2 separate regions of the Homo sapiens genome follow, and region 2 is linked to region 1. Evidence: fine-mapped expression QTL. A gene starts in region 1. The other region holds a variant in brackets. All regions are shown on one strand. Distances are between the middles of the regions. Region 1 holds the start of DLGAP4 (DLG associated protein 4). Region 2 overlaps DLGAP4 (DLG associated protein 4).

Region 1 (11,476 bases):
CTGTGTCCATTTTTTGAATGTGGAAACTGAGACCCAGTGAGGTTGGGTAACTTGCCCAGTCACAGCCAGTGTGTGACAGAGCCAAGATATGAATCCAGGCCTGTTCACTCCAGAGCCCACACTCCCCCACACCGGGAAAACAAATCAAAATAGAGCAAAGGAATACATGACACTTAGAAATTTATTTTGGAACAAATTTGGACAATATAGAAAATTTGGAAAATATAGGAGAGGAGAAAAAAGGAGGTAATTCTGCATAGCTCCCCTCCCCTGGGATACATGTCATTAAGTGTCATTAAAAGTTTGAGAATCTTCTGCTTGTTTTGGCTGAGCCTGGCCAAGTTCATATGATGCAAGCAGCACACGGTATGAACCCAGACTGTCAAATGCTGCCTTTTTAAATTTTTTTGAGGCAGGGTCTCCCTCAGTCACCCAGGCTAGAGTGCAGTGGTACAAACACGGCTCACTGCAGCCTTGACCTCCTAGGCTCAAGTGATTCTCCCACCTCAGCCTCCCAAGTAGCTGGGACTACAGGCATGCTCCACCACACCCAGCTAACTTTTTAATTTTGTAGGGATGGGGTCTCGCCATGTTGCCCAGGCTGGCCCTGGACTCCTGGCCTCAAGCAGTCCTCCTGCCTCAGCCTCCCAAAACACTGGGATTACAGGTATAACTGTGCAGGTCTCAAATACCATGCTTTGATATTAATTTAATGTGGCCTGAACCCCAAGGAGCTACTTCCAGTCTTGTGGGAGAGGAGGAAGTAACAGGTGTGCCTAAGCGGGGGTTCCCCCTAAGTGGACCCTGAAACAGGCACTTGAGTGCAGGTAGTTTATCTGAGAGGTGATCCTAGTCTGCAGGAGGGAGGCAGAGGAGGAGGGAAAGTCAGTCAGATGGGCATTTGCCAGCAGGGCACCACTGTGGGCCACTGGAGCTCCATCTTGCTGGGGACGTTCTGAAGAACAGTGGAAAGCGTGCCTGAGACTGTCTCCCTGAAGGCTCGGAGGCTGCAGCATTTCCTCTGTGACTCTTTTCCCCAAGGGACTGAAGGTTCTGCTGGGGGCCTTACTCTCCTGCATTTCCAAGCCGTCCTGTGCTTGGATGGGACAAGCTCTTGCAACTTCAGAAAATGCCATCAGGCAGAAAAGTGGAGAGACCTGGTGGGTGCTTGCAGCAGACCAGAGTTCAGGAGCTGTCCACCAAGGCTGCAGCAGAATTCAAGATGGGCACCAACAGCATTTGCTTTGAGACGTGGTGTGTCTTTGTCATCATAAAGTGTTTTGGGGGTATAAAACCAGGAATGAGACATAGAATGAGACATAGAAGTCAGGGGTGATTTCCCCAGAATAGGTGACATTCGAGTTGAATTTTGAAAGGTGACTACACAATGGGAGAAGAGGCATTTCAGGTAAAGGCTGAGGTGTGAAACAGCTTGTTGTCTTCAGGAGAAACTGCAGAGCTTGTACCTGAGTCATGGGGTTTGGCCAAGACTGGTTTGGTACAAGCTCAATGTCATCATTAGCTAGATATGGTCATTATCCGGATTTAATCATTATCAAATTACAGACCTGGTTTATATTCCACTTTCACTGCATCTCTGTGGACCTCTCCATCTCTTTTTCTGTCTTTGTCTCTATGAGTTTCTCTCTCTCTTTTTAAAAATACATACTTCAGATACACACAAGTGAGTTAAACTGAGTCCTTGGTTCATGACATGCCTTCAGCATTGGTGCATCAAGTCCTACAGTGTATATAATACAAGATAGTAGAAAGCATAATCTAACATATGCACCTTGAGCCACTGCTCACCCCAAGAACTAGAACAGAATCAGTATCTGACATCTGCCTCTGTGCTGCACCCCATCCCATCCCCCAGCTCTCTGCTGGAGGTCACTAAGATTCTGAATTTTGAGTTTATCCTCCCCTAGTTTCCTTGTTTTTAGTGTTATTACATGCATGCATACCTAATTAATATGTAGTTTGTTTTTACTTGTTTATTAATTTTATGTTAAAAAGTGCCATACTGTATATAGTCTTGTCTTTTCTTTTTAGCTCAATGCTGTTGATGAGCATGTGGCCATGTTGCTGTATGTAATCATGATTTATTTGTTCTGAAGGCTGTATGTGACTATACCATTATTTATTTCTTTTTTTATTCTCCCGTCGATGGACAGTCAGGCTGTCTTCTGGTCTTCTGCTATTGCAAACAGTGCTGTGTGGCTGTTCCTGCGCGTAAATCCTAAAGCTCTGCAAAATGCAGTCTGGGCATCCTCAGCCCGGGCATCACCTGGAAACTTGTTAGAAATGCAGAGTCTGGGGCCCTGCCCTAGCCCCGCCAGAACTGAATCTGCATTTTAACAAGACCCCTGGGGGATTCACTGGCTTATTCACGTTTGAGAAGCACTGGCCGAGTGTACCTCTGCATGGGTTTCTCTTGGGCATACACATCAGGAGTGGAAGTGCTGGGTCGCAGTGGGTGGCCCAGATCACCCTCTCGGCCGCAGCTTCGGAGCTGCCACTGAGCTAGAGCTTCCCCAGCTCTTGGTATTGTCCCACGTTCTCATTGTTGCCAGTCGACTGGGCGTGCAGTGGCATCTCATCATGGTCTTGACTTACATTTCCCCCATGACTAACGAGGTCAGGCACCTCCTCGTATGTTTACTGGCCATATGTTTCCCCTTCTGTGAAACGCCTGTTCCTGTTTTTTGCTCTTTTTTCTTTTAGGCTCACTCTACTCAATCCTGCCTTTGCATATACTGTTCTTTCCATCAGAAATGCCTTCCCCTTTCGCTACCCTGTGTCAGTTCTTCCAGGAAGCCCTCTCTGATTGCTGCTTAGGTTGTGAGCCTCCTCAGCCTCACAGGCAGGAAAACTCGGTGTCATTGTCCCTTCATTCTTCTCCTGAAGTCTCTTCCTCACTGGAGAGACTGTGAACCTATATGGCTTGGTTTGCATAGAGTTAACAATTTTTTCACTCTAGTTGCCATTATTTTCAGGGATTTTCTGAAGTTTTACATTTCAGAAAATCTTAACTGCTAGCTTCTCTTGAAAAAATAAGATATGGCTCCACTGTCTCCTTCCCTAGATGGCAAAATCAGCTAGTGCTGAGTAGGGGCTGCCCCTGCTGGACCATGTGTCACAGTCCCCACAACTCCAGGCTCACAACTTGCTTAAACAACCTGTCCAAGCCCTGTGGGCATTTGGGTTTGTGACCCTTGCCTAAGCGTGCCCAATGCTTGTTCCTCTAAAACTTGCCCTTCCTTCCCCTCCTCCCCATAACCCCATCCTTGTTCCCACTCAGGGCTTTGCATCTCTCCCCTGTGCCATCACACTAGCCTCCTTGACATTCCTTTCTCTAGTCTTGCCTGTTCCAGTCCACTGCCATGTCACACTCCTGCTCAAGAACCAGCAATGGCACCCCCTTGCCTTCCCAGGCACCACCTGACTTTCTACAAAACAAAAAAGTATTACAATAGGAATATTTTATGTCCACAAAAAAGTCTAGAGAACAACATGACAAACACCCATGTGCTCACCACCCCGGCTTAAGACATAAACCACTTCAAGTATATTTAAAGCCCTTACTACAACATTCCCTTCCCTCTCTCCCTCACGGTCACTACTCTCTTGAATTTGCTGTCTATCACTCCCATGCATGCTTTTACACTTGTATTACATATGTATGTGTCGCTAAACAATATATGGTATTGTGTTGTGTGTTTTCAAACTTTATGTATCTGGCATGAAATTATGTTTTCCATCTGCAACTTGCTTTTTCCATCCAACAATATATATTTTTATTTTAAAAATTGTATTGAAGTATAGCATTCATACAAAGAGCACACAAATTGTAAGTGTACAACCCTGGATTTTCACAAACTGAATCAACAGTGTGTTTTTGAGATTCAGCCTCACAATGCATAAGCTTGCAATCACCTATTTTGAGGATTGTGGATCACAGACAGTTTTCCATTGTCTGAATGTGTTGCTATTTATCCAGTTTCCAAATGATGGACATTTAGGCTGTGTCCAGCTTTTCACTATTACAAACGATGCTGCTATGAGCATCCTTGTGCAAGCCTCCCGGGCCCCCATGTGAGGTGTTCTCGAGGGCAAAGCCTGCTCATCTTCAACCTGATCATATATATACCGCCAGGTCGCTGTCCAGCCCCTGGCTCTCGCTGGCTCCCAGCTCATTCGCCAAGATCTTCCCACTGCTCCAGGGAGCCCACTCTCCTCCTTGCTGACACCCTGCCCAAACATGCCACCTCTTTGCCTGCTGCATGCAGGTGTTAAACTCACCTTTCCATCCAGGCTTTACTGAAGCCCTGCCTCTTCCAGGAAGCCCTCTTGGGCAGCGCTGGGCCTCAGGGTGTCATCTCCTCTGAGTGACCTCCTCTCACCCCAGTTGTTAGAGCCAGAGAAGATAGAGACAAACCCAGACCAGACACTGGGGAAAGGGGAATGTGTTCTGGAGAAAGGAAATATGGGTAGACTAGTAGGGAGTGTGAGAAGCTGGGGTACGAAACAGATTGCTCTGGGCCTTGATGGATGAGTAGGAGTTTGTCAGGTAGAGAGGTGGGAGGGCATGGCAGGCACAGGGAAAGGCAGAGGCTGGGCACTGAAACAGTCATCACTGGGTTGGGGATGTGAGCAGGGTGGGTGGGTGGTGGAGGAGACTGGAACAGGGCTGTGAGGAGCCTTGCAGGCCACCCTTTCACGCCATTCTGACCCTTCTGCATTCAGAGGCATTCTCTGGAGATGGCTGTGTGTGGGAGCCAGAGAAGGCAGGCACATTCATTTGACACCTACTGAATGCCAGGCACCGGTAAAGAGCTCATACCCATGATCTCTTTGGTTTCTCACCCAAGTTGGGGATAGAGACTCGTGGTGTCCCCATTTTACAGGTGGAGGAATGGGGCTCAGAGAGGGACAGTCTTTTGTCTGTAACCACAGAGCCAGGAGAGGCAGGGCTGGTACGCAGTTCAGGTTCATCCCACTCCAGAGACTGCATTTAACCCCCGTTCAGCCAGAGGCTAGAAGACACCTGGGAGAGGGTTCTGCGGAAGCAGGTCACCGGGAGGGGGCACCCATTCCTAGAGGCAGGAGCCCCAAGTTCTCGGGGGTGGGGTGGTTCCTGACTGGCGCGGTGTGACCCGGGCCAGTCTCGTTCTCTCTGGGCCTCAGTTTCCCTCCTCCACGGGGCGGCGATGGTCAACACAGGTTCCTGCCGGCCCGCCCCGTAGCCTGGGGTTCCAGGCTCCCGTGCCACCGCGGCCCGCGCTGTGTGACCTTGTTCCAGTAGCCTGCCCTCTCTGGACTGGCGGCCCCGGATTTCCAAGCGCTCTTCCGGATCGCGACAGAGCGGTCGCCCGCTGCGGAGACCCTCCCCCTTCCCCCGGGTTGCGGGGGCGTGGGTGGGGGTGGGGCGCCAGGAACGGCGCGGGCCCCCCCAAGGCCCCCCCAGCCCCGCGCCCGCGGCCCGATCCGCGCCTGGTTTTGGGCGCAGCCGCACGGCCCCCTCCCCCGCGCTCCTCTCCCCTCTCCCCGCCCCCTCCCCGCCGCTCTCGGGGAGCCGGGGCCGCACGGCTCCTCCTCCCGCAGCCGCATCTGGGGCGCCGCGCCGGCCGGAGGAGAGGCATGGGGCGCCCGCGGGCCGGAGCCGGGGCGGGGGCCGGGGCCTAGGCGCGCGGACCTGCGAGCGGACCCGAGAGGCGGCGGCGGCGCAGCGGAACGGCAGAGCGGGCCGGAGGCGGCCGAGGCGCCCGGCGCAGGTGAGGGCGCGGGGGTGGCGCGCGGCGGCTCCTACCCCCTTCCCGGGCCGGCGCGCTCCGTCCCTCGGCTAGACCCCCCGATCTGGTCTCCTCCCCGACAGACCTCCCTGAACCGGGGGACGGCGCTGGCGCAGAAAAGCCCCCTCCCCTGCCAGTTCTGTCTTCCGATCCCGGGTCCGAGGGGCCGGCTGTGCGGCTGGGAAGCGCCTTCTCCGGTTGGGATCGCCCCATCCATGTCTCCCCGGACCCTCAAATCGGGGGCGGCGGCACCGGGGCCCGGAACCCCTGTCCGGGACCGGATCCCCATTCCGGCTCTTTTTCCCGCGGACTCCCCCGTACCCCATATCAAGCGGCTGCCAAAGCCTGGAAGCCCCCTCCTCAGGCCCGCCCCCTAATCCGCAGGGCGGCCTGGGGGTCAGGCGGACCCCTCCCGTGCCCGGCCAACCTTGGCGCTTGGGAGAGCAGGGCTATGCCGGCCCGGGCATTCCTCCATTCAACCCAGCTGCCTCGGATCCCGTCTCGGTAGACCCGGGAGCCGCCGGCTCCCCCCTTCCCGAGCTCTTTCCCTGACCTGGCATCTGGGGAGGGGGCGGGGGCAGCACCCCCCTCCCGCGCTGCATAGCGCCCCCTCCCTGTTTGCGTCCCTGGGAGGGGCTGGGCTGACCCGGGCACCTGGGCTGGGGGGGCACTCACATGGCTACCGGAGGCCCCCACGTGCGGCGCCCCGCGGAGACAGGGGTTCGCGTTCAGAGCTGGTGGCGGATGGACCAGGTGGCCGCGGGGACCAGCTGGGTCCAGATGTGCTGGGCCTGCTGGAAGGGGACAGGTGCTACCTGGACGTGTAATGGCCCTTGGTCTCTTTTGGCCGAACCTGCCGCTCCGATCCCCCTCCATCCCTTCATCCCTCCATCCCTCCATCCCTCCATCCCTCCGGCCCTTCTCCCCTTCTTCCTCCGCTGCCTGTGTTGCAGAGAGGGGCTGTCAGAGACTGTTGATGTGGGAAAAAATGAAATGGGGGAGGGGTTGTGATTGGCAAAGGCCAGTTGTGCCGGGAGCGGTGGGTAGAGGAGGTGCCCTGAGAATGGGAAGCCCTAAGCTTGGAGGGCAGCGCTGATGGGGAGAGGGTTCCTGGCACCCCCACCTGCCTGGAAGTGGAAATGACATAGCGGGAGGGGGCTGCAGTTCCAGCCCCCGGGGGACTGGCCTGCCCTGCCTCTACCTCCACTGCACCTCCTCTCCAAGCCTAGTCCCCAGTAGGGAGGGGGGAGTCCTGGCTCTCTCTGCCTCTGAGCCCTCACTTGTGGGAGGGGGCTGTTTTCCGCCAGCTGGAAGTGGTGGGAATCAGTTGTACAGGACCATCTCCTAGAATGCCTGTTGGAAGAGCCCTGTTTCTGTCCCTCCTTGGTGGCCACCTCTCTCTTGCCTTCTCTGCCAGAGGGCACTGGGCTGCCTGGTCCCAGGGTGGGGCTGCAGAGCTGGTGCCCTGGCCTGGCCGATGGGTGGCTGGAGTGTTGGAGCCACCACCAGGCCCTAGAGCCGGCTGTCGGGGCCAGTCAGCAGCAGACTCCGAGTGTGTTCCCAGCAGCTCCGGAGACGCTGGCTGTGCACGTGGGGCTGGCTAGAGTGCCTGTCTCCCGCTGTGGCAGGGGTAGGCCAGGGATCCTGTGTCCTCCAGGAGCTGGGACAGCGCAACTCAACTTCTGGGAGTGTGCCCGTGTGTGGTGTCCATGGCGACCCCGTACTCACCTGCCAGAGGCCTGGTGAGGCCTGTGCTGGGCGCTGGGGAGTGCAATGGCTGACAGGGTCCCCACCTCCAGGAGCCTCTTTTTTGTTGGGGGAGGCAGCCTGTGTCAGGCATTGGAGACAGTGTCCATGCTGAAGAGAAACTGTGAGCTGGACGGGACCTGATGGCTGGGTTATGTGGAACCCCGGGTGCCAGCCTTGAGATGGAACTGCAGGTCTGAGGGCTGTGCCCCGGGCGTGAAGCTGCCTGGCAGCTGAGTTGGTGTTTTTGAAGGAAGGCTGTGCAGCACTTGGGAACTAGGAGAGAATGTGTGCTTTGGAGCTTTCGGGAGACGCTGACGTATCGGATGTATCGGGGCACCCACTGACATCTCATTAGGTTCTTGTGTGGTTTGTGAGCCACAGGCTTCGTAAATGCCAGCAGTTTCACATGATGGGGAGGCTCTGAGGAACTGTATCCCGGGCACCGTATGTGACAGAAGCAGGTGGTCCCTACCCTCCTATACTTCCGTGATGGGTATTCATTCATTCAGAAAAGCATTAGAAAATCGCATTTGCTAACATCAGTGCATTTGAACACTTTCATTTAAACATTCTGAAATGTGAATTAATAAAATCTTGAATGCAGGGTTTTTTTTTATAGAAAGTACACAGTAGGTACTCAATAAATGTCATGGCTCCCAGGATGAAACCCAACCTCCCCCTCCCCCAACTAGCTACTTTCTAGCCACCTCTTGCTCCCCACCCCCTCCCTCTTTGGCTCGGGTCCCCCTGGCGGGCCTTCAGTTCCTGGAACAGGCCACGTTCCCTCCAGCTTCAGGGTCTTCACACATGCTGGCTCCTCTGCCTGAACATCCCCAGCCCCCTTCTCCCACGTGCCTGTTTCACTACTGCTCATCACCCAAGCTTAAGCATCGCTTCCAAAAGAAAGCCTTCCTCGATGCCCAGGCCAGGCTGTGTCACTGTCACCACCCGCCCAGCCCCGTGGGCCTCTGCTTCATTACCCCGTGCCCATCCTTCTTGGATGTCTCTGGGTGTGGCTGGTGTGGAGAAGGGCAGGGTCGTGCCTGTCTCTTCACGCCATTCCTCTGGTGCTGAGAAGATGTCTTGGCTCAACGTGTGCACTCATCCATTTCTTTTGACTTTTGACGACCTGGTCCATTCTGAGTGGAGGGCTGGGCTCTGGGGAATGGGGGGAGACTTGGCCAGGCCATTGCCAACATGACTGTCCATGTGCGTTCCTGGCCTCCAGCTGGGTCTGCATACCCAGAGGCATTTAGCCAGGATCTGTGGGAGTTACAGGCCTGTAGCCCCTAAAGTCCCAGCAGGTCTGTGGGACCCCAAAGTCTCTACAAGAGGGAGAGGGGCCATGCTGGGGCAGACCTGGCATCTTTAGAGGTGTGCCCCTGGCCAGGCATTTCCCCCTGTGGCCATTCATTTGCTCACATCATCACCTGTTTACCTGTTCAGCCCTTCCTTCACTCGCCAGGTCACTGGCCTGTTCACTCTTCCATTTCCTAGTCCTCTGTCCGTTCTTTGGGCTACTAGTGCTTCCTGAGGCCCACTCAGTGTCCAGCCCTGTGCCAGGCTTGGGGACACAGAGTCAAACCTGTGAGGACCCCACTCTGTAAACTGTAGCCATCCTGCCAGGTGCTTCCTAGTGATGGAGACTGGTGCTGTCCAACCACTGGAAGTGCTTCATAAAGGACATGCGCTGAGCAGGGTTTTGGAGGATTTGGGGATTTGGGTAGATGGAGAATAGTGGGGAAGGACACTGCTGGCTGCAAGAACTGCATGGACAAGCACAGTGGCCCATGCTTGTAATCCCAGCACTTTGGGAGGCCAAGGTGGGAGGATTCCTTGAGTCCAGGAGTTTGAGACTAGTCTAGGCAACATAGTGAGACCCTGTCTCTACAAAAAAAAAAAAAGAAAGAAAGAAAGAAAGAAAGAAAGAAAGAAAGAAAGAAAGAAAGAAAGAAAGAAAGAAAAGAAAAGAATTGCATGGATAAAGGCAGGAAGGCAGCCACATGCTGGTTGAGCTTGGGGATGCTGAGGGTTATGTGTCCTTCTAAGAGGAGGTGGCCACTCCTGAGTGGGCCACAGGGAGGCTGGTGGTGGAGGGAGTAGGGTGCAGTCATGGTCGGCATCCACTCTTCTAGGAGCCCTGTTGCGAATTTGCTGTGTTTCTTTGGATGAGGCGTGTCCCCTCTCTGGGCTCCCTTGATAAAGTGAAGACTTGGACCTGATGATCTCTGAGGGACCTTCTGCCTTCCACTGTCCGAAGTCTGTGATCCTGGGAGCCCTGCATCTTGGGGCATCTGGTGGGCTGTCCTCCCATTTTCTGGACAAGGAAACTGAGCATTAGTTTAGTTTATTAGTAAGGTCTCCAAGGCTGCACAGCTGGTGAGGTGGAGGTGCCAGGGTTTGGATCCAGAGCAAGCCACTGGGTTTGCTGTAGTGGCTTTGAAGGACAGCTTTTGTGTGTAAGCTCCCAGGGCTGGCATCAGCGTGGGGCTGGCGAGGCTTGGCAGTTTCTTCTAACAGATGACCCTGTTGGTTAAGGGAGTGAGGGTGCTGGAGAGCAAACTCACTGGGCATCTTTGAGAAAAGCTGTCACCGAGGAGTCCTGTGTGTTGCACCAAAGACAAGCCCACTTCCTACTTTATCGGAATATGGGGGGATGCTTTGTGACTCACATGACTAGATTTTCTTTCATTGTGACCTATGGGGGAGAGGGTTGCCTGTTCTGTTCCTATATCCCCTCCACAGCGTCTCCTGGCAACTCCTCCAGGCCAGGACTGAAGCCTTTAGGGGTGTGCAGCACGTGCAGTACTCTACAGTTTGCAGAACCCATTTCATCCCCCCATCTTCTAGCCACAGCCAGGGTTAGGAATGAAAAGGGATATTGTCTGCATTTGACAGATGAGGAAACTGAGGCTCAGAGTGGTTGGGTGGCTGCCCAAGGTCACTCGGAGGGTGGGGGGGGTGGACCCTCAGCCGAGGCGCCCCTCTCACTGGGTCCTTGCAGGGAGGGCAGCGTTTAGGGGCTTCTCACTTGCAGATCACACATTATTTCCTGAGCCGAGGAGTGGGGCCCAGGATCCTTCTGTGCTGGGTTTCGCAACGCCGCCTCCTCCCTACCGAGCTGTCTGACGTGGCCTTTTCAAAAACCCAAAATGAATGGAAGCACATTTTGTTTGGAGAATTTTGCTACACCCCTCACCAGGGCTGGTTGCAAAACCAGGCTTGGGGATCCCTACTGATGTTGACGATGATAATAATAATAATAACTGTATCACTGGCTAGCATTTCTTTTCATTCATTCATTCCTTCAACAAAGCATTTTAGACCATCTCCCAGGCCATGTGCACTGCTCAGCCCTCTGTTAGTGAGCACCGATGTCCGGACTCTCTTTCAGCCTCCCTCACACCCTATTATGATTATCACCCCCATTTTATGGAAGAGGAAACTGGGGCACAGAGAGCCAATGCTGCACAGCCGGTGAAGTGGAGGTGCCAGGGTTTGGACGAAAGGCTCCCTCCCCATGACAGAGGCTGGAAGACAGAGGCCGGGCTTTGGACGTAAGTCAGTTAGAGTTTAGAGGCTGGTCTTAGCCCCATGTTCTGGGGATTCTGAAGTTCCCGTTTGTTCCACAGCAAGCGTTGGGTGGGGAGGGAATCAAGTGGAGCAGACCCAGTTCCTGGCTTTGGGGAACCTGAACAGATGCGCTGGGGGCAGAGCTGGGTCTGGTCTGGAGAGCAGCCTTGGGACCACCCTTGGACTCAGTGGCTGCTCTGCTGTCAGTGGCCACACCTCCCCCAGCCCCGCCAGAGGCCCCATCTGAACTGTGAGGTTCACGGGTACCAAGGGATGGGCATCAGAGGAGAACTGTGGCCTCTCTCCCGGCTCCGCTGTGCTTCCCCAGCATGCAATTCTGGTTAAGCCAGCTCATCTCTCAG
Region 2 (11,476 bases), 120 kb after region 1:
ACTTCAGGGGCTACTGCCATCCGAAGTCCTAACTGGGGCTGCAGGATCCCCTTCCAAGGTGGTTCACCCACAGGGTTGGCAAGTTAGTGCTGGCTGTTGGCAGGAGGCCTCAGTTCCTTCCACATGGCCCTCTCCTTAGGACTACTTGAGTGTCCTCACAACATGGCGGCTAACTTCTCCAAGGGAGCAAAGCAGAAGCTGCAGTGTCTTTCCTGACCTAGCCTCAGAGGTCACACTTGGTCATCTCCACAATATCCTATTGGTGACACCGGTCAACCCTGCACATGTTAAGGGAGAGGGGTGTACACAAGGATGGGACTTCAGGAGGTGGGGACCACCGGGGTGTATCTTGGAGGCTGGCTGCCATGGTGGATGCAATATTCCCAGCAGGAGGAGTTGTAGTGAGGATTAAATGAGCTCACATAATGTGAAGCACCTGGTATACAATAAGCACTCAATAAAGGATCACACACAGCTCTCCCCACTAGCCTGATTGGCTTGAGTGGAAAACTTAACTACCCTGTAGCTGCCTCACTTTCTGGATCATTTCTTGGCGTCCCCAAGGCCTTCCACCACTCTTTCATTCAACACAATCTTCATGAACACCTACTATATCCAAGCCCCGTGCTGGATGCTGGAGACGCAGTGGTGGCAGAGACACAGTCTGTACTTGCTGTTCCAGGCTGCTTCGGGCATACATCAGAGCAGAGAGGGGCTGGCAGACGAGGAGCTGCTTTGGACAGTGTGGTCAGGGATCGCCTCTCAGTGGATGTAGCCTGTGAGCCAAGTCCTGAATGAAGTGAGGGGGCATTGTGTGGACACAGGAGGGAAGAGCACTCCAGGCAGCTGGATCAGGTAGGGCAAAAGCAGGAGCAAACCATCCATGTCCCAAGGACAGAATGAAGACCCAAGGGAAGAGGGGCAGGAAATGAGGTCGGGAAAGCCAGAAGAAGACTGGTTTTTGGCCAGGCGCAGTGACCCACACCTGTAATCCCAGCACTTTGAGAGGCTAAGGTGGGCGGATCACCTGAGCCCAGGAGTTCAGGACTGGCCTGGGCAACATGGGGAAACCTTGTCTCTATAAAAAACACAAAAATTAGGCTGGGTGTGGTAGCTCACACCTGTAATCCTAGCACTTTGGGAGGCCGAGGCGGGCGGATCACCTGAGGTCGGGAGTTCAAGCCCAGCCAAACCAACATGGAGAAACCCAGTCTCTACTAAAAATTCAAAATTAGCCAGGCGTGGTGGCGCATGCCTGTAATCCCAGCTACTCTGGAGGCTGAGGCAGGAGAATCGCTTGAACCTGGGAGGCGGAGGTTTCAGTGAGCCAAGATTGTGCCATTGCACTCCAGCTTGGGCAACAAGAGCGAAAACTCTGTCTCAAGAAAAAAAAAAAATTAGTAGCCGTGCCTGTGGTGCACAGCTATAGTCCCAGCTACCCAGGAAGCTGAGACCGGAGGATCTCTTGAGCCCAGGAGGTCAAGGCTGCAGTGAGCTATGAACATGCCACTGCACTCCAGCCTGGGCAAAAAACACAGCAAGACCCTATTTCAAAAAATAATACTAATAAAGAAGACTAGGGGCCGGGCGCGGTGGCTCATGCCTATAATCCCAGCACTTTGGGAGGCCGAGGCAGGGAGATCACTTGAAGTCAGGAGTTGGAGATCAGCCTGGCCAACATGGTGAACCCCCGTGTCTGCTAAGAATACAAAAAAATTGGCTGGGCGTGGTGACGTGTGCCTTTAATCCCAGCTGTTTGGGAGGCTGAGGCAGGAGAATCGCTTGAACCTGGGAAGCAGAGGTTGCAGTGAGCCGAGATCGCACAACTGTACTATGGTCTGGGTGACAGAGTGAGACTGTCTCAAAAAAAAAAAAAAAGAGAGAATAGGTTTTAGTCCAAGGGCCATGGGAGTCTTTGAAAGGATCTGAACAGCAGTCATCTGAGTGAGAGATAGTGGGGACTCGGCCTGGGGCAGGGCTGTGGAGGTGGTAGGTGGAGGAACTCTGGGGATATGTGGAAGGGAGACTTGTTTTTACAGTTTGTGCTGCTGAATGGGATGCTGGGGTAGTGAAAGAGGAGTCAAGGGTACTTCCCGGTTTCTGACCTGAACAAGCAGGAGGATGATGTTGTCATGAGTAGAATCGGGGCAGACTGTGGGCGGAGCAGGTCGGGGCGGGTGAGAGATCCCGTGTTCTATCTTGGACCTGTCAGACATCCAGGGCAAGATGTCAAGGAGGCAGTTAGAGATCTGAGTCTGGCGTCTGAGAGACAGATTGGGCGGAAGATGTAAATTCAGGAGTTGTCAGATAGGTGGTGTTTAAGGCCATGCGTCAGGATGAGATCAGCAGAGGAGAGGGTGTGTTAGAGCAAGGCGGAGAGCACCCGGGTCCTCTAGCATTTAGACGTCAGAGGAGAGAAGCCAGCAAGAGCCGGAGCAGGTATGAGAGATGTGGGTTGAGCACGGGAAGGGTGCCCAAAGACACAGCCATGGCGCAACACAGCCAGCCACTCTCTACCTTCACCCCACCCCAGGCAGCAGCAAGGCCCTGGAGGCCCCCACAGAATCCATCCTTCCCCTTCCACACATCGTCCCTTCAGAGGTCTAAGGCAGAGAATGTGTCCTCCATGGACTGCTATGTACACCCCCAGAATGTTCGGCCATTCCACCTCACTTCATTTCTAAGCCTTCATCATCTAACTCAGCATTGAGCAGGACCACCCCTCCCTTCACTTAGACTCTCTACCTCTGTTAATGCAACCTTAGACAGAAGTAGGCTTTCTGGTAGTAACAAATATACAAGATATGAGTGGGGAATTGTAAGGGATCCAGGCTGGTTAAAGGGAAGGGCCGTCAAGAAAGGAAATGGGATTGGTAATATCTGAAAAGGTTTATGGTTAGATCAGTGAGGGTCTTGATTGCCACACCAAGCAGTTTGGACTGAGGTGGGAAGAAGGATTCACAGAAGGTTCTGGCTTAAGGGAATGATGCAGTCAGGTGAGTTTTGTGTCAGGAAGAGCCATGCTAGGTTCTGTTCCTGGCCTTGTCCCTAATTAGCTCTCCCATGCTCACAGGCCCACTCTGGCACCACGATGAGATGAGGTAGGGCAGGGAGGTCTCACTCTGGCATGTGGGGGTGGCGGCTGCAGACACAGAGGCACCATGGAGCAGGGAGGTTCCCAGGGAGGCAGCAGCTTTGCTGGGCCCTCCACGTTTCCATAAGGGCAATGATGCTTATATTAATGAGCAGTAATTATGGGCACCCGGGTGGGCCTAAGTATAGCTCATTGAAAAAGGCAGCTCGAGGCAGCCAGCTGCTTCCCCCTGCAAGGGCAAGGCCTGCCTATTTTAAGACCTCCCTAAGGTGAGGATCCTGCCACCCTAGGTGTTGGGTGGCTGAGGGCCTGTCACCCACTGGGCCAGGAACCCTGATCAAGGGAGCTCAGAGGAGTCAGGGTGACCAGATGCTCAGACCGTCCTCATTCAAGCCCCCCATTGCCTAGAGGAGGAAACTGAGGCACAGAAGGGGGAAAGGACCAGTACGAGGTCACAGCAAATAAATAGCAGGTTTAGAATTTAAATCCAAGGGGTCTGGCATGGTGGCTCATGCCTGTAATCCCAGCATTTTGGGAGGCTGAGGCGGGCGGATCACTTGAGCTCAGGAGTTCGAGACCTGGCCAATGGTGAAACCCCGTCTCTACCAAAAGTACAAAAATTAGCCAGGCGTGGTGGCAGGCAACTGTAATCCCAGCTATTGAGGAGGCTGAGGCAGGAGAATTCCTTGAACTCGGGGGGCAGAGGTTGCAGTGAGCCAAGATCACACTACTGAACTCCAGCCTGGGTGACAGAGCAAGACTCCGTCTCAAAAAAAAAAAAAAAAAAAAAAAAAAAAGGACAGTATTTGAATACAGGTCCAACTACATGCAGTTTCCACCATGCCGTGCAGCATTCCTCACCTGGAAGCTTTGGCCTGTCCCCAAGAAGCACAGTATAGTGAGGTGAGGAGGGGAACAGAGTGTGACTGATACTGATTGGGCATCGAAATGCGAGGCTTTCTATATGACATCACAGTTCAACCTTATTATAATTTTTAAAAGTAAGGATCATGGCCAGTAATCCCAGCACTTTGGGAGGCCGAGGCGGGTGGATCATCTGAGGTCAGGAGTTCGAGACCAGCCTGGCCAACATGGGGAAACTGTCTCTACCAAAAATACAAAATGTAGCTGGGCACGGTGGCGCTCACCTGTAATCCCAGCTACTCGGGAGGCTGAGGCGGGAGAATTGCTTGAACCCGGGAGGCAGAGGTTGCAGTGAGCCGAGATCATGCCGCTGCACTCCAGCCCGAGTGACAGAATGAGACTCGGTCTAAAAAAAAACCGAAAACGGATCATTATCCCCATGTTACAGAAGAGGAAACCGAGGCTCAGGGGGAATGACTGAATCACCAAGTGTCCTGCAGTGAGGAGGGGAAGAAGTAGAATCCAGTTCCGTCCTATCTCAGGTCAGCTTCCCCAGGAAACAGACTCAGGTTTGCATGAGAAGTTTCCTGGGAAATCAGTTCGGAACATCTGTGACAGGTGAAGGGGACAGGATTGGGCAGAGGGAAGAGGTGAACCTCAATACAGCACAACAGAGGCCTCAGCGAATCCCATAGGGAGCTCTGGAACTGGGATGGCCCTTTAGGGTTGTTCTGAATTGGGGCAAGGGAGCCACACCTTGGTACCCAAACATTGACCAGTTATTGGATGCAGGGTGCCCCTGGGAAGGAGCATAAGGACAGACTATGGGTGGAGCAGGTCAGGGTGGGTGGGAGAATGAGTTCTGTATCTTGGACCTGTCAGACTTCCAGGGCAAGATGTCAAGGAGGCAGTTAGAGATCCAAGTCTGGCATCTTGGGTGAGGCATCTCCCTTTGGCTGAGAGCAGCTCCTAGCGGGAACTTGGCTGTGAATTGTCAGCAGCCAATGCTCTTGGCAGCTGGGGTTGTGAGTGCCTCTGTGCAGGGGGGTCCTGGGTGGCCATCACAGCATCCACTGCACATCCATCTCCAGAGCCGTTCTCATTCCTCTGACCCCAGATGAGAACCAGCCCCTGCTCTCAGGAAAGTTACGGGCACATGGACTCCTGTTTTTTTGTTTGTTTTGTTTGTTTTTTTTTTTTTTTGAGACAGAGTCTTGCTCTGTCACTCAGTCTGGAGTGCAGTGGCACAATCTCAGCTCACTGCAACCTCTGCCTTTCAGATTGAAGTGATTCTCCTGCCTCTGCCTCCCAAGTGGCTGGGATTATAGGCTCAAGCCACCACGTCTGGCTAATTGTTGTATTTTTAGTAGAGATGGGGTTTCGCCATATTGGGCAGGGTGGTCTCAAATTCCTGACCTCAAGTAATCCAGGCGTGAGCCACCATGCCCAGCCTTA[C/T]ACTCCTTTTCTTTATGGTGCTCACAGGCCAGGGGATGCTGGGGGGAAGGGAAGCCATCAGTGCTAATGGGGAAGGAAAGAGCGAGTAAGTGGTCAGTCCTGGAAGAGGAGAAAAATACTACCAAAACCCCACAAAGACAGAATGGGAGAAAATATTTACAAACCATATATCTGCTAAGGGTTCAATATCTAGAATATATACAAAGAATTCCTAGAGCTTAACAACAAAAATGACAAACAACCCAATTATAAAATGGGCAAAGGACTTAAATAGACATTTCTCCCAAGAAGATATACAGACAGCCAATAAGCACATGGAAAGATGCTCAACATCATTAGTCATCAGGAAAATGCAAATCAAAGCCACAGGGAGATACCAGTTCACACCTACTAGGATGACTATAATTTTTTTAAAAAGGAAATAAGTTCTGGCAAGATCTGGGAAAACTGGAACCCCTGTATATTGCTGGTGGGAACGTCATATGGTGCAGCTGCTATGGAAAACAGTTTGGTGGTTCCGCAAAAAGTTAAACATAGGGGCTGGGCGTGGTGGCTCGCCTGTAATCCCAGCACTTTTGGAGGCCAAGGCGGGTGGATCACAAGGTCAGGAGTTCAAGAACAGCCTGGCCAAATGGTGAAACCCCGTCTCTACTAAAAATACAAAACATAGCCAGGTGCAGTGGCGGGCACCTGTAATCCCAGCTACTCGGGTTGCTGAGGCAGGAGAATCACTTGAACCCAGGAGGCGGAGGTTGCAGTGAGCCAAGATCATGCCATTGCACTCCAGCCTGGGCGACAAGAGCAAGACTCCATCTCAAAAACAAAACAAAACAAAAGTTAAACATAGAATTACTGTATGATCCAGCAATTCCACTTGGATATTAACCCAAAACAATTGAAAACAGAGACTCAAACAGATACTTGGACACCATTGTTTGTAGCAATATTATTCACAATAGCCAAAAGGTAGAAACAACCCAGGTGTCCATCCAAAGATGAATGGATTAAACAAAATGTACTATATATGCAGGATGGAATATGATGCAGCCATAAAACGGAATGAAGTTCTGACCCATGCTACAACATGGGTGAACTTAGAAAACAAACATTATGCTACGTGAAATAGGTCAGACACAAAATAACAAATGTTATATGATTCCACATATTGAGAATATTTAGCATAGGCAAATTCAGAGAGACAGAAAGTAGGTTAAATATTACTAGGGGCCGCCAGGCATAGGGCTCACATCTGTAATCCCAGCACTTTGGGAGGCCAAGGCAGGCATTTCACTTGAAGTCAAGAGTTCAAGACCAGCCTGGCCAACATGGTGAAACCCGTTCTCCACTAAAAATACAAAAATTAGCTGGGCATGGTGGCATGCGCCTCTAATCCCAGCTACTTGGGAGGCTGAGGCACGAGAATCGCTTGAACCCAGGAGGCAGAGGTTGCAGTGAGCCGAGATCGCACCACCGCACTCCAGCCTGGGTGACAGAGCGAGACTCTCAGACTCTGTCTCAAAAAAAAAAATGAATAAAAGAAATTACCAGGGGCTAGGAGAAGGAGGAGAAAAGAAGTTTTTGCTTAATGGGTACAGAGTTTCTGTTTGGGGTGATGGAATGGTTTTGGAAATAGATCATAGTGGTGGTTACACAACATTGTGAGTGTCCATAATGCCCCACTGAATTGCACGCTTAAAGATGGTTAAAATGGCAAATTTTATGTTACATGTATTTTGCTACAATAAAAGTAATACCTACGGGAAATAGGAAAATTCATAGACACGGAAAGTATCTATGGACGTGGTTGTCAGAAGCTGGGAAAAGGGGAAAATAGGGAATGACTGCTTATTGGGGATGCGGTTTGCTTTTGGGGTTATGAAAATGTTTCAGGGCTGGGTGTGGTGGCTCATGCCTGTAATCCCAACATTGTGGGAGGCTGAGGCAGGAGTATTGCTTGAGCCCAGGAGTTCCAGACCAGCTTGGGCAACATAATGAGACTCCTGTCTGTACCAAAAAAAAAAAAAATGTTTTTTCTAATTAGCTGGGCATGTACCTATAGTCTCAGCTACTCAAGAAGCTGATGTGGGAGGACATTTGAGCCCAGGAGATCAAAGCTGCGGTGAGCTATGATCACACCACTGCACTCCAGCCTCGGCAACAGAGCGAGACCCTGTCTCAAAAGAAAGAAAGAGGCTGGGTGCAATGGCTCATGCCTGTAATCTCAACACTTTGGGAGGCCGAGGCAGGCGGATCATGAAGTCAGGAGTTAGAGACCAGCCTGGCCAACATAGTGAAACCCCATCTGTACTAAAAATTACAAAAATTAGCCGGATGTGGTGGCATGCACCTGTAGTCCCAGCTACTCAGGAGGTTGAGGCAGGAGAATCGGTTGAACCTGGGAGGCAGAGGTTGCAGTGAGCTGAGACCACACCATTGCACTCCAACCTGGGTGACAGAGTGAGAGTCCATCAAAAGAAAGAAGTGGGAGGGAGGGAGGGAAGGAAGGAAGGAAGGAAGGAAGGAAATATTTCGGAACTAGATGGAGGTAGTGATTACACAGCATTGTTACTAAATGTCACTAAATTGTACACTTTAAAATGACTAATTTTATGTTACATTAATTTCTCCTCAGTTTTTTTTTAAAAAAGGAAAAAAGGCTGGGTGCAGTGGCTCACGCCTGTAATCCCAGCATTTTGGGAGGCCAAGGTGGGTGGATCACAGAAGGTCAGGAGTTCGAGACCAGCCTGGTCAACATGGTGAAAACCTGTCTCTACTAAAAATACAAAAATTAGCTGGGCGTGGTGGTGCGTGCCTATAATCCCGGCTACTAGTTAGGCTGAGGCACGAGAATCGCTGGAACCCAGGAGGCAGAGGTTGCAGTGAGCTGAGACCACCCCATTGCACTCCAGCCTGGGCGACAAGAGCAAGACTCCGTGTCAAAAAATAAAAATAAAAAAGGGAAAAAAAACTGGAAAAATACAATCCATAATATGCAGCTAATAGATACTCAGGGGAAAATATATAGCTTTTCTGTGACACATTTATTAGAGTATAAGGAGATCAGAAAACAAATGAACTAAACGTCCAACTCAAAAAGGTGGAAAAGGTGTTAGAATAAGAAAGTGTGCTGAACCCAGCTTTAGCAGGGGTGAGGGAGGGAGGCACCTTGCAAGAGGAGGGTTGAACCTCTAGGACTATACTGTCAACCTGGTAGCCACTTGCCACATGTGCTATTTAAATTAAATTAATTAAACTTTTTAAAAAATTAAAAATTCAGTTTCCCAGTCGCACTAGCTGCATGTCAAGTGCTCTGTGGCCCAGTGGCTACCATATTGGACAGCTCAGATCTAGGGGAAGATGGACAAGAAACTAGCAAACAAGTAAACACATGAGAGTTTCCCAGAGCAGTGAGAGCTATGAAGAAATCCTGAAGGGTGTGAGCTTGGCTGGCAGGTGGACAGTAAGAGATGGGAACAAGGTTGGAGAAGCTGGTGGAAGCTGGGCCATGCTGGGCCAGATGGACATCCACTCTTTGCTGAGGCCACCTGGTACCGTCCCATCCTCCCCACCCTCTGCCCCTCAGCTGGTGGATCCAGCCCCCACACTGTCCCCTTTCTTTGCACATCCTCCAGTTCAGCAGGGCCAGTGGGCTGGGTGGGGCCTGCGTTAAGAGTCAAGAAGACCTGGGTTCCAGTCCTGGTTCCGTGTGGCTTTGTGCTGTCTGGTTCCCAGACTGGCGCACTTTGTCTCATAGGATGTTCTAGAGGTCAGAGTCTAAAACGGATTGCAGAGCTACATTCTCTCTGGAGGCTCTAGGGGAGAATTCATCTCTTTTTTTGAGACACAGTCCCACTTTGTTGCCCAGGCTGGTCTCAAACTCCTGGCCTCAAGCAATCCTCCTGCCTTGGCCTCCCAAAGTGCTGGGATTACAGGCGTAAGCCACCATGCCCAGCCATCTCTGCCAGCTTCTGAAGGCTGCCTGCATTCCTTGGCTCATGTCTCCACATCACTCTGATCTCTGCTTCTGTTGGCACATCTCCTCTGACTCTGACCTTCCTGCCTGTTTATTTATTTATTTATGTATTTATTTTTGAGACAGAGTCTCACTCTGTTGCCCAGGCTGGAGTGCAGTGGCACAATCTCGGCTCACTGCAACCTCCACCTCCAGGTTCAAGTGATTTTCCTGCCTCAGCCTCCCAAGTAGCTGGGATTATAGGCGCACGCCATCACACCCAGTAATTTTTGTATTTTTAGTAGAGATGGGGTTTCACTACGTTGGCCAGGCTGGTCTCAAACTCCTGACCTCAAGTGATCTGCCCTGCCTTGGCCTCCAAAAGTGCTGGGATTACAGATATGAGAAACCATGGCTGGCCCATTCCTGTTTCTTTTTTTCTTTTTTTTTTTTTTTTTTTTTTTTGAGACAGAGTCTTATTCTGTCACCCAGGCTGGAGTGCAGTGGCACGATCTCAGCTCACTGCGAACTCTGCCTCCTGGGCTCAAGTGATTCTCCAGAAGCCTCAGCCTCCCAAGTAGCTGGCATTACAAGCACACACCCCACACCCAGCTAATTTTTTGTTTTTTGGTAGAGATGGGGTTTCACTGTGTTGGCCTGGGTGGTCTCAAACTCCTGATCTCAAGTGATCCACCTGCCTTGGCCTCCAAAAGTGCTGGGATTACAGGTGTGAGCCACCATGCCCAGCCCATGCCTCTTTCTTATAGGGACCGTGTGATTAGCTTGAGCCTATCCAGATAATTCATGATAGTCTCCCCATCTCAAGATCCTTAATCACATTTGCAAAATAACCACACCTGCCAAGTTCCTTTTGACAAGGTCATGGGCATATTTGGGGGCCATTATTCTGCCCTCCATACTTGATGTCAGCCAGAGCCTTTGTGCTGTGACCTGACCCAGCCCCTCTGAGAGCCCTCCCTCCACAAACCTTGTCCTCACTTGCTCTGCTCCAGCCACACTGACTCTTTGCCAATCCTCAGCACACCAGGCTCAGGCCAAACCAAGTCTTGGTACTCCCACGTACAGGGCCGGTGGGCTTAGAAACCTCGCCAACCTCTCTGCTCCATGGCAGACAGGAAGATTGAGGCCCAGGCTCAGAAAAGGAAGGGACTTACCTAAGTTTTGGACTAGTATTTCCAGGATGTTCCCATTTTACAACAGGGGAAACTGAGGCACAGCAACTGCACCTAAATGCCACCCTCTTGTGAGCCCTTGCCTTGCTTGTCCTGAGGACGTGCCCCTGTTATTGACTCTGAGAGCTCTATTCCAGGCCATCTTTGCTTCATCTCAATTGGAAATGATGGGCCTATGGGCTTGTTGGCCTCTTTGGTGTCAGAAGCCCTCAGCACCTGCCCAGCAGTCATACTTGGTAGACATTCGGTGAAGGGCAGAGCAGGTTTTTGCAGAGGGCTTCCATTTGACATAGGAATTCCTCTGTTAAACAATTGGACGGTACTGCCCTCAGACCTGGATGAGATGGGCCCTTGCCCTAGGTCCTTCTTTTTGGAAGGCCTCTCTAGGCAGGCACAGTGGCCCACAGCTATAATCCCAGCACTTTGGGAGACCAAGGCTGGAGGATCCCTTGATCCCAGGAGGCCAAGGCTGCAGTGAGCTGTCTGTGACCTTGTTGCAAAAAAAAAAAAAAAAAAAAAAAAGGCCAGGCATGGTGGCTCATGCCTGTAATCTCAGTACTTTGGAAGGCCAAGGTGGGCGGATCACTTGAGGTCAGGAGTTCGAGACCAGTCTGGCCAACATAGTGAAACCCTGTCTCTACTAAAAATACAAAAATTAGCCATGTGTGGTGGCATGCATCTGTAATCCCAGCTACTCGGCAGGCTGAGGCAGGAGAATCACTTGAACCCGGGAGACGGAGGTTGCAGTGAGCCAGGATCACACCACTGCACTCCAGCCTGGGTAACAGAGTGAGACTCTGTCTCTAAAAAAAAAAAAAAAAAAAGACCTCTCTGGCCCTCTAAAAGTCCATGTTTTTCCCCATAAGGCAAGGAGAGTTCAGGAGCCCTGGGGACATGCCCACCAGCAGGCTGCATCCC

Evidence for each region.
Region 2: its variant is fine-mapped to the expression of DLGAP4 in whole blood (TOPMed, PIP 0.99).

What each region holds. Positions count from the first base shown.
Region 1 is chr20:36,300,739-36,312,214 of GRCh38, forward strand. DLGAP4 (DLG associated protein 4) reads left to right here and starts at 5,601. Exons shown (of 13, transcript NM_001365621.2): 1 at 5,601-5,774.
Region 2 is chr20:36,419,593-36,431,068 of GRCh38, forward strand. All of the region lies in intron 2 of DLGAP4 (DLG associated protein 4), which reads left to right. Among named protein-coding and RNA genes, the nearest start is that of MYL9, 120 kb to the right of the region's middle. The variant C/T (reference allele first, on the strand shown) is at 5,414.